Homo sapiens: one gene and its partner. The protein of the gene in region 1 interacts with the protein of each later gene in a biochemical or structural test. Each region holds a gene or a part of one and is shown in the gene's direction. Other genes may lie near its edges. The genes, in order: SH2B3 and MET.

Region 1 (3,817 bases):
CAATAAACGCCACTGCCTGGGCCAGGGTCAGGGAGGGATCCACCTTCCTGTGGCCTGGCTGCCCTCCTGGCCAAAAAACCTCCCTGGTACAGTCCCTTCCATAGCTTGGGCTACAGCTGACTGCTCTGGGCTGGCAACTTCCTGCCCGGAGCAGCCTGAGCAGCCGCCTCTCCCCTGAGAAGATCTTTTGTTCCAGCTCCCCATGACGCCCCGAGCCCAGCCCATGAGGCAGGCCCCCCTGTGGCTTCCCATGGCGGGCGAGCCTGACTCCGAGGCTGGAGCTCTTTTCTAACAGTGATAGTAAGAAAATAGCAGCAGCCACTTATGAGCCCCATGCCAAGCACACTGCAGACATCAGTTCTTTTTTTCTTATAGAGATATGGTCTGCTTCTGTCACTCAGGCTGGAGTGCAGTGGTGTGATCACAGCTCACTGCAGCCTCGACCTCCTGGGCTCAAGCAGTCTTCCCGCCTCAGCCTCCTGAGTAGCTGGGACTACAGGCCCAGCCACCATGCCAGGCTAATTTTTTTGTATTTATAGTAGACATAGGGTTTCATCATGTTGCCCAGCTTGGTCTCGAACTCTGGGGCTCAAGCAATCCTCCCGCCTTGGCCTCCCGAGGTATTGAGATTATAGGTGTGAGCCACTGAGCCCAGCCTCTCATTTTTGTTTTCTTCCTTTTGCCCTGTGACAGTTTTCCTGATCATTGGTGGGTTTGGGACCTGGACAGAGCTACTGCCGACTCCTGACTCCAGCTGGAGCTGAATGAGACTTTTATATTCTCTCCTCTGGGACTCACTCATTCATCCAATAAGCATTCATTGGGAAGTGAGCCCTTCTTGTGTGCATTTAGGCACTGATCAGACATTTTGGGGGTCCCTTCTGTGTGGGGGTCTCTATAATCACTAGCTATGGGGCCGCTCTGTTTCAGCTTCCCCATCTGTAAAATGGAAGTAATCGTTGGACCTACCTCCTAGGGCTGTTAGGAACCTTGGAAGAGGTAATATTTTGTAAAAGTAGTTAGAAAAATGCCTGATATGATCTTGGCATGGTGCCATGAGCCTGTAGTTACAGCTACTCTGGAGGCTGAGGCAGGAGGATCTCTTGAGCCCAGGAGTTCGAGGCAGCAGTGAGCTATGATTGTGCCACTGCACTCCAGCCTGGAAGACAGAGTGAGACCCTGTCTCTAAAAAGAGAAAGAAAAATGTCTGATGTGTAGCAGACGCTCAGTAAATGCCATTGTTCTTATGGGAGGACTGGTGGAAGGGGCCCAATGAGGGGGGTTCCCAGCCGTTGCCTGGGCAGTGAGGGACCTGGAGTGGGCGCAGCTGTTTTGAGGAAGGCTCCTGCCAGGGTTTGGCCCTGCAGTTGGGCTTCAAGACTCTGACATACAGGACTGTGCGGAAGGTAGGACGGCCCAGGGGGCGGGGGAGGTTGGTTCATGCTGGTTGCCACGCATCTGCCGGGAGAGCAAGAGTTTGCAAATCCAACTGATCTCTTGCATTCATATGTTCATTCATTCAAGAGGCATTCATTGAGCTCCTGCTGTATGCTAGGAGCTGGAGATGAAGCAGGGAATGACTCATGGAACTCAGTCTGTTGGAGAGATAGTCACTAATAAAAGCATCCTGTCAAGTGATAATGTGTGACCAGTGTGCTGAAGGTCAAGTTCAGTTGGGAGCTCAGAAGAGGCTTCTCTTATGTGCAATTGGAAGCAGACAGGGCAGAGGGAATGGCTCATGCCAACACCCACAGGCAGCTGGCGTGACTAGCGGCAGATCGTGTAGGTGGGGCAGGAGCCTGGGTCTGGAATCACAGCTCTCTGGGCATCCTCCAAGCCACGAGGGCAGCGCCTGTCTCACCTGTGTCAAGGCTGGGTGTGGGGAACAGTAGGATTGACCAAGAACAGGTGCCCTTATGCAGGGGTTAGACCCTCCCCCCTTCAGGGACAGGAAGAACATGGTGGCCAAGGGCAGATGTGGCCCCTCCCTCTCCCTTCCCATCTGCCTGACAGCTTTTAGTGACTACTTACTGTGTGCAAAGTACCTACTGTGTGCGGGTCCCAAGGACCCTGTGATGTACAAAACTGTCGACTGTAGCAGGGCACGGTGGCTCATGCCTGTAATCCCAGCACTTTGGGAGGCCAAGGTGGGAGGGCTGCTTGAGCCCAGGAGTTTGAGACCAGCCTAGGCAACATAGTGAGACCCCATCTCTACAAAAAATACAAAAATTAACCAGGTGTCGTGGTGTGTGCCTGTAGTCTTAGCACTTTGGGAGGCCAAGATGAGGATAGCTTGAGCCTGGGAGGTCTAGGCTGCGGTGAGCCATGATTATGCCACTGCACTCCAGCCTGGGTGACAGAACAAGACCCTGTCTCAAAAAAAAAAAAAAACATTGTCGACTCTGCATGGCCCCCTTCCATCGAGGGCAGAGGCACCTACTTGTGCTTTTTGGGGTTTCTTGTGGAGATCGGCTGTGGGGGTTCCACCATGGCCTCATGTGACAGGGGCACCCTTTGTTGCCACTGCCCTGCAGACATGCCCAGCGGGACATGGCCACATGCAGAGACGGTGCCTGTGGAGGGGTGTGTGGCAGAGAGAACCCCATTTGTAGGTTCGCATCTCCACCTTGCATTCCCTTTCATGGGTTCCTTACAAGGTGGATGCCATGCTGCCACCTGGTTGGCAGATGAGGAAATCCAGGTTCAGAGAGGTTGAGTCAGGCATCAGGAGCCACACAGCCAATACGTGTCCCCCTTTGTAATGTGAGCCCTGGGAGAGCAGTGTTCGTCTGTGCTGTTCACCGTGGTATCTCAGGGCCTAGCCTGGTGTCTGGCACACAGTAGGCCCTCAGTAACACCTGAAGAGAGGATGAAGGAGGGCGTGATTGGAGGCAGCAAATGTACCCAGGCCCCTGTGGCTCTGTAGCTTGTGTTGTGCAGCCACTACCCCTGCCCAGGGAGGGAGTCACTGGAGTGGCACTGCTGTTCATTCAGGGTGTGCTGATATCAGGGATCTGGGGCCCAGTTTTGTGCCTGAGTAGGGAGAGCATTTCTTCTCCATCTTGAAGAGCGACATGGATATGTGGTCTCCAGCAGGGGCCCAGGCCCAGCGAGGGTCAGGAGGAAGGAAGGATGGTGCCCACAGAGGTCCCAACTGTTCTGCACCGTGGACAGCAGAGGGGTGGGGGGTCTCAGTGCCATTCTGGTGATGTTGTGCCTAAGGAAAGGCCCTCTGGCCATGGGAGGAGAAGGATGCCCCAGTTGAGATGGGCAGGCAAAGGTCTGCTAGTCCTGAGGGTCCCCTGTCAGTGCAGGAAATCCCTCTGGACCCCCGTGACTTTTGTTAATTTATTCCTTTTTATTTTTTGTTTTATATTTATTTTTGTTTTTGTTTTTGTGTGTGTGATTTTTTTTTTTTTTTTTTCCAGGACAGAGTCTCGCTCTGTCACCCAGGCTGGAATGCAGTGGCATGATCTCAGCTCGTTGCAACCTCTGCCTCCCAGGTTCAAGTGATTCTCCTGCCTCACCCTCCCGAGTAGCTGGCATTACAGGCACACACCACCACACCCAGCTAATTTTTGTATTTTTAGTAGAGGCGAGGTTTCACCATGTTGGCCAGGCTGGTTTCGAATTCCTGACCTCAGGTGATCCACCCACCTAAGCCTCCCAGAGTGCTGGGATTACAGGTATGAGCAGCTGCCCCCGGCCCATTTATTTATGTATTTATTTATTTATTTATTTATTTAGAGACGGAGTCTCGCTCTGTTGCCCAGGCTGGAGTCCAGTGGCGTGATCTCGGCTCACTGCAAGCTCCGCC
Region 2 (3,817 bases), on another chromosome or scaffold:
TATTCATAGGATACTCAATTTCCTCATTGTGCCCTCTTAAGGGGAGAAAATGTATGTAGAAACTCAAGTGTCCGGAAGTGAGCCTTCTTTTCCTGGCTGGTGTATGCTGAAACTAGTGTTTTTGACACCAAGCCCTTAGGGCAGAGTTTCTTCATGGGTTTTGCTCAGTGCAAAATAAATAGTCACTTCTCAGTAATAAATGATAGATACACTGACTAATGTTAGTTCAGAATCACTTTGATGATGTGTTCTCAACTGACACTGAGTTGCTGCTAGATCCACATTTGCCTGACCAAAAATAGCTAGGACCTATAGGTAGAGTATCATATGTGCTAGGTACTACAGCATTTTCTTTAAAAGAAAGAAATGGAATCTGCCCTTGAGAAGTTTATGATCTAGATACACAGACAAATATCACATATTAAATGAACACAAATTCATAATTATTAAGAGGACATCACATGAGAAACGCTTTCAAAATCATCCTATTTGCTATGAAATAATAGAATTTTTTTTTAAAAATCAAAGTTTGGAACTTAAAAACCTTAACATTTTCAAGCTGTTTCTGCATACATCACCTTTCTGATACCAAAACGACCTTACAAGATAGGCAAGTCTGATAACATCTTAACATTCTTATGTTATAGACAAGGAAACTGAGCTTGAGACTAGCTCCATGCTATTTCAATAGCACCATACCACCTTTCCTCAGCCATCAACTATTGGAAACATTTTCCATGGAGGCATCATTAGGGATGCTTAAGATAGTGGTAAATGATGAATATAACATATCTAGTCCCTGGAGTTTTTGTCACCTTCTCTTTCTCCAGTTCTCTCTCTCTTTTTTTTTTTTAATTTCTTTTCTTTTCTTTTTTTCTTTTCTTTGTAGTGAGACATACCGAGAAAAGGTTTCATTCATATGTGTGGGGCATTCTGCTCCTGTTATCAGATTAAGAGCCGTGAATAATTTTGTAATCTATCCTTCTATCAGAAAGCCCATTCTCAGATATCTTTTCAGCTGTGTTAAACAGGTTAGTATATTCCGCTTGGGATTTGTTTCAATAAAAACATCCAGTAAAATCTGACTACTTTGCTTTTCATGGGACAAAATGAAAAAAGTGCTTTTATAAGCTGTAAAACTTAATTGAGAGAAAAAATCACGTGTGGCATTTGTAGCAGGAGGTATGAGCTCAGTGAAATAAAAAAGTTAACTTTGTAATCACATACCCAGGTACACATATTTCTCTCTGTGATTGCATAAATGTGTGCAAGTATGTTTATGTAGGTTACTCCCATTGATTTTAATTTCTATAATAAATTATGTAGCTATAGGGCCCACAGGCGATTATATAATGGGCAATAGAATTTGAAAATGTATCTCTCCTAATATAATTAAGGATAGCAATTATGAAATGTGCTTAGAGAATCACAAGTTATCGTGAAAGCCAGGTTCCTGTACTCCAAGAATGTGAATGAGGATTTAGTCATTCATTCAGGACAATTTTTTGACAACCTACGAGGCATAGTTCTAAAATCTGGCATTTCCACAGAGTATAAAACAGATGAAAACCTCTAACCTCATGACACTCTGTTCTATTGAGTTGGCAAACAATAAAGAAATACATAACTGAAATGTGTTGTATGTCAGGTGATGATAATAGCTTCAAGGTAGAATAAAATGGAAAAGAGAATAGTGACTGTCAAGGATAAGAGAGAGTGGGATGGTGATTGAAAAACTCAATAGTGAGGTCAGGGAAGGCTTGTCTTCAAAGGTGGGCTTTGGGCTAGAATCTGAAGGAGATAAGGAAGTGAGCCAGGCGCATATGAGGAGCACTTCTCAGGAGTGCTATTCTCATCTTGTTTTTCCTGAAATTGTGCAGTTCACAGCTTGCACAACTGTCCATAGACTCCCTGATTTTGGAGGGAGATACCTGAATAGTGCCCCTGTTTTTGTAGGGAAATACCTGGACAGTGCCTGCCATCATTAGCTACCATGTTAAAGATGAAGATACAGGAGTGGCCCACATCTCTTGGTTTATGAGACATGGAAGAAGAAGACCCAGAGTGTTGTTTTGTTTTTTTTTTTGTTTTTTTGTTTTGTTTTGTTTTGTTTTGTTTTGCATCCGCCTGGTCCCATCCCATACTCCATCCTCTATCAGAGATATTGCTCCATTCAGACAATTTTCCTTCTTATTTTCCACACTGTGAGCCTGTCACAGTGGGATTTGTTGAGAAGGATACCCATGGCTTTTTTCACTGATCCCTTCCATAGTATAAATCTAAAGACAGCAAGAGGCAGTTGCTGATGGTGTGCAGCTTCTGTCTGCTATGCACTTCTTTCTTTCCCCCTCGCTCTCCTTCCTTTTCCTTTCCAGTATTAAGTCACTGCATTGGATTTTCTTCCTCTTTTCTTCCTTTTCCCTTATTCCCCTATTTATATCCTGTATCAAGATTTGCAAACAGGTAACTTAAATGAGGAAAACTAACCATTTCACTAGGGATTGACAAACTGCTTAGGAAAAGCAGAGGGGCAGTCACTGCTTGGCGTGATTAGAGCTGTTGTGAGGCTCAGTGTATGGCATGGGCCCATGTGGTAGTATCTTTCAGATTTTCAAGAGAAGCTAGGACTCTCCCAATTTTAAAATGTTGACTCAGTGTCTTTAAAACACCATACAGCTTACAGTGGCAGAAAGTCTGCAAGCCAGATTGGGCTCCTGATGGTCCCAATTGCAGCAGCATGCATGGCCCGAGAGCCCCAGGACTGCTTCTACAAAATATTTTATTTTCTAAAATTCTCAGAAAATTAACTAAACAAATTTTTTAAAACCAATATTTTATGTCAGTTCCTATTGGCACGTGGTTATTTTTCTAAACTCATCAGCCCACATACTTTACATCAAACTATGTACGTTTCTAAACTAAAGGGTAATCTAGTTATTTCATTCTTAAACTGAAGTAGTAGTTTTCTGAAACCTGAATCCATCATGGCTTTATGCATCAATTTCATTTCCAAGTTCTCTGATTCAGGATAAACTCCCCCTTTGGAATATTGTCTTTCTCTCTCTCTCTCTCTGTCTCTCTCTCTCTCTGTCTCTGTCTCTGGAAATGACTGAACTTCACCCGTTGTTATTACCCTGCCATTGAAATTCAAAACATGCACTGCCCTCCTGGTTTCCAGTGCCCTTTAAAAGCAATCAGATCAGTGTTAAAATCTATTTTTCCAAAGGAATAAAAGCTCACAGGTTGTGCACTAATTTGTTTCCTTTAATCCTAAAATCTCAGTGAAATGCCCAAGCTAGCAGCCCTCCAGAAGGCCACTGTGTTAGAAAGGGAGATTATGTACTGTATTTCTTCCTACTATTTTAAATGCAAATATAATAATATATCATGAAACAGTGCACATACAGTATACATATTAAGATCAGTGGTCTATTCCTGTTTTGAAATGGTCTCCTACTCCTTAATAGTTGGAATTCTGAGGCAGCACCTAGACTCTCAGGTCCAATTTGAAAATGTATGTTTTTTTTTAAAAAAGAATGACTTGGGGAATAACTGTTTGATAAGACCGTGGAAGATTTCTAATTTTTAATATTTTATTAAAAATGTAAAGAAAGACATTCAAAGCTGAGACCTTTGAAATAATATGGTCTTTGCAAGTCAGAGAAAAAGAGAAGTGGTAAATTTATTAGAGATAGGTTGCCTCCTTTGAGGCCTAATCATGTGGGAAAGGAAAACCCAGCCAAGGTTTGGGTCCATAAGACAATTCAACCTAGCTTTAAAAATAGGTTTTGGCTTTGCTTGGGACCAGCATTGGGAC

Evidence for each region.
Region 2: the proteins of SH2B3 (region 1) and MET form a complex in vitro, tested with the Homo sapiens proteins (one large-scale study listed by BioGRID and IntAct).

What each region holds. Positions count from the first base shown.
Region 1 is NC_000012.12:111,412,214-111,416,030, forward strand, and holds part of SH2B3 (SH2B adapter protein 3), read left to right. Parts: intron 1-3,817. UniProt on the Homo sapiens protein: Links T-cell receptor activation signal to phospholipase C-gamma-1, GRB2 and phosphatidylinositol 3-kinase.
Region 2 is NC_000007.14:116,674,914-116,678,730, forward strand, and holds part of MET (hepatocyte growth factor receptor isoform b preproprotein), read left to right. Parts: intron 1-3,817. UniProt on the Homo sapiens protein: Receptor tyrosine kinase that transduces signals from the extracellular matrix into the cytoplasm by binding to hepatocyte growth factor/HGF ligand. Regulates many physiological processes including proliferation, scattering, morphogenesis and survival.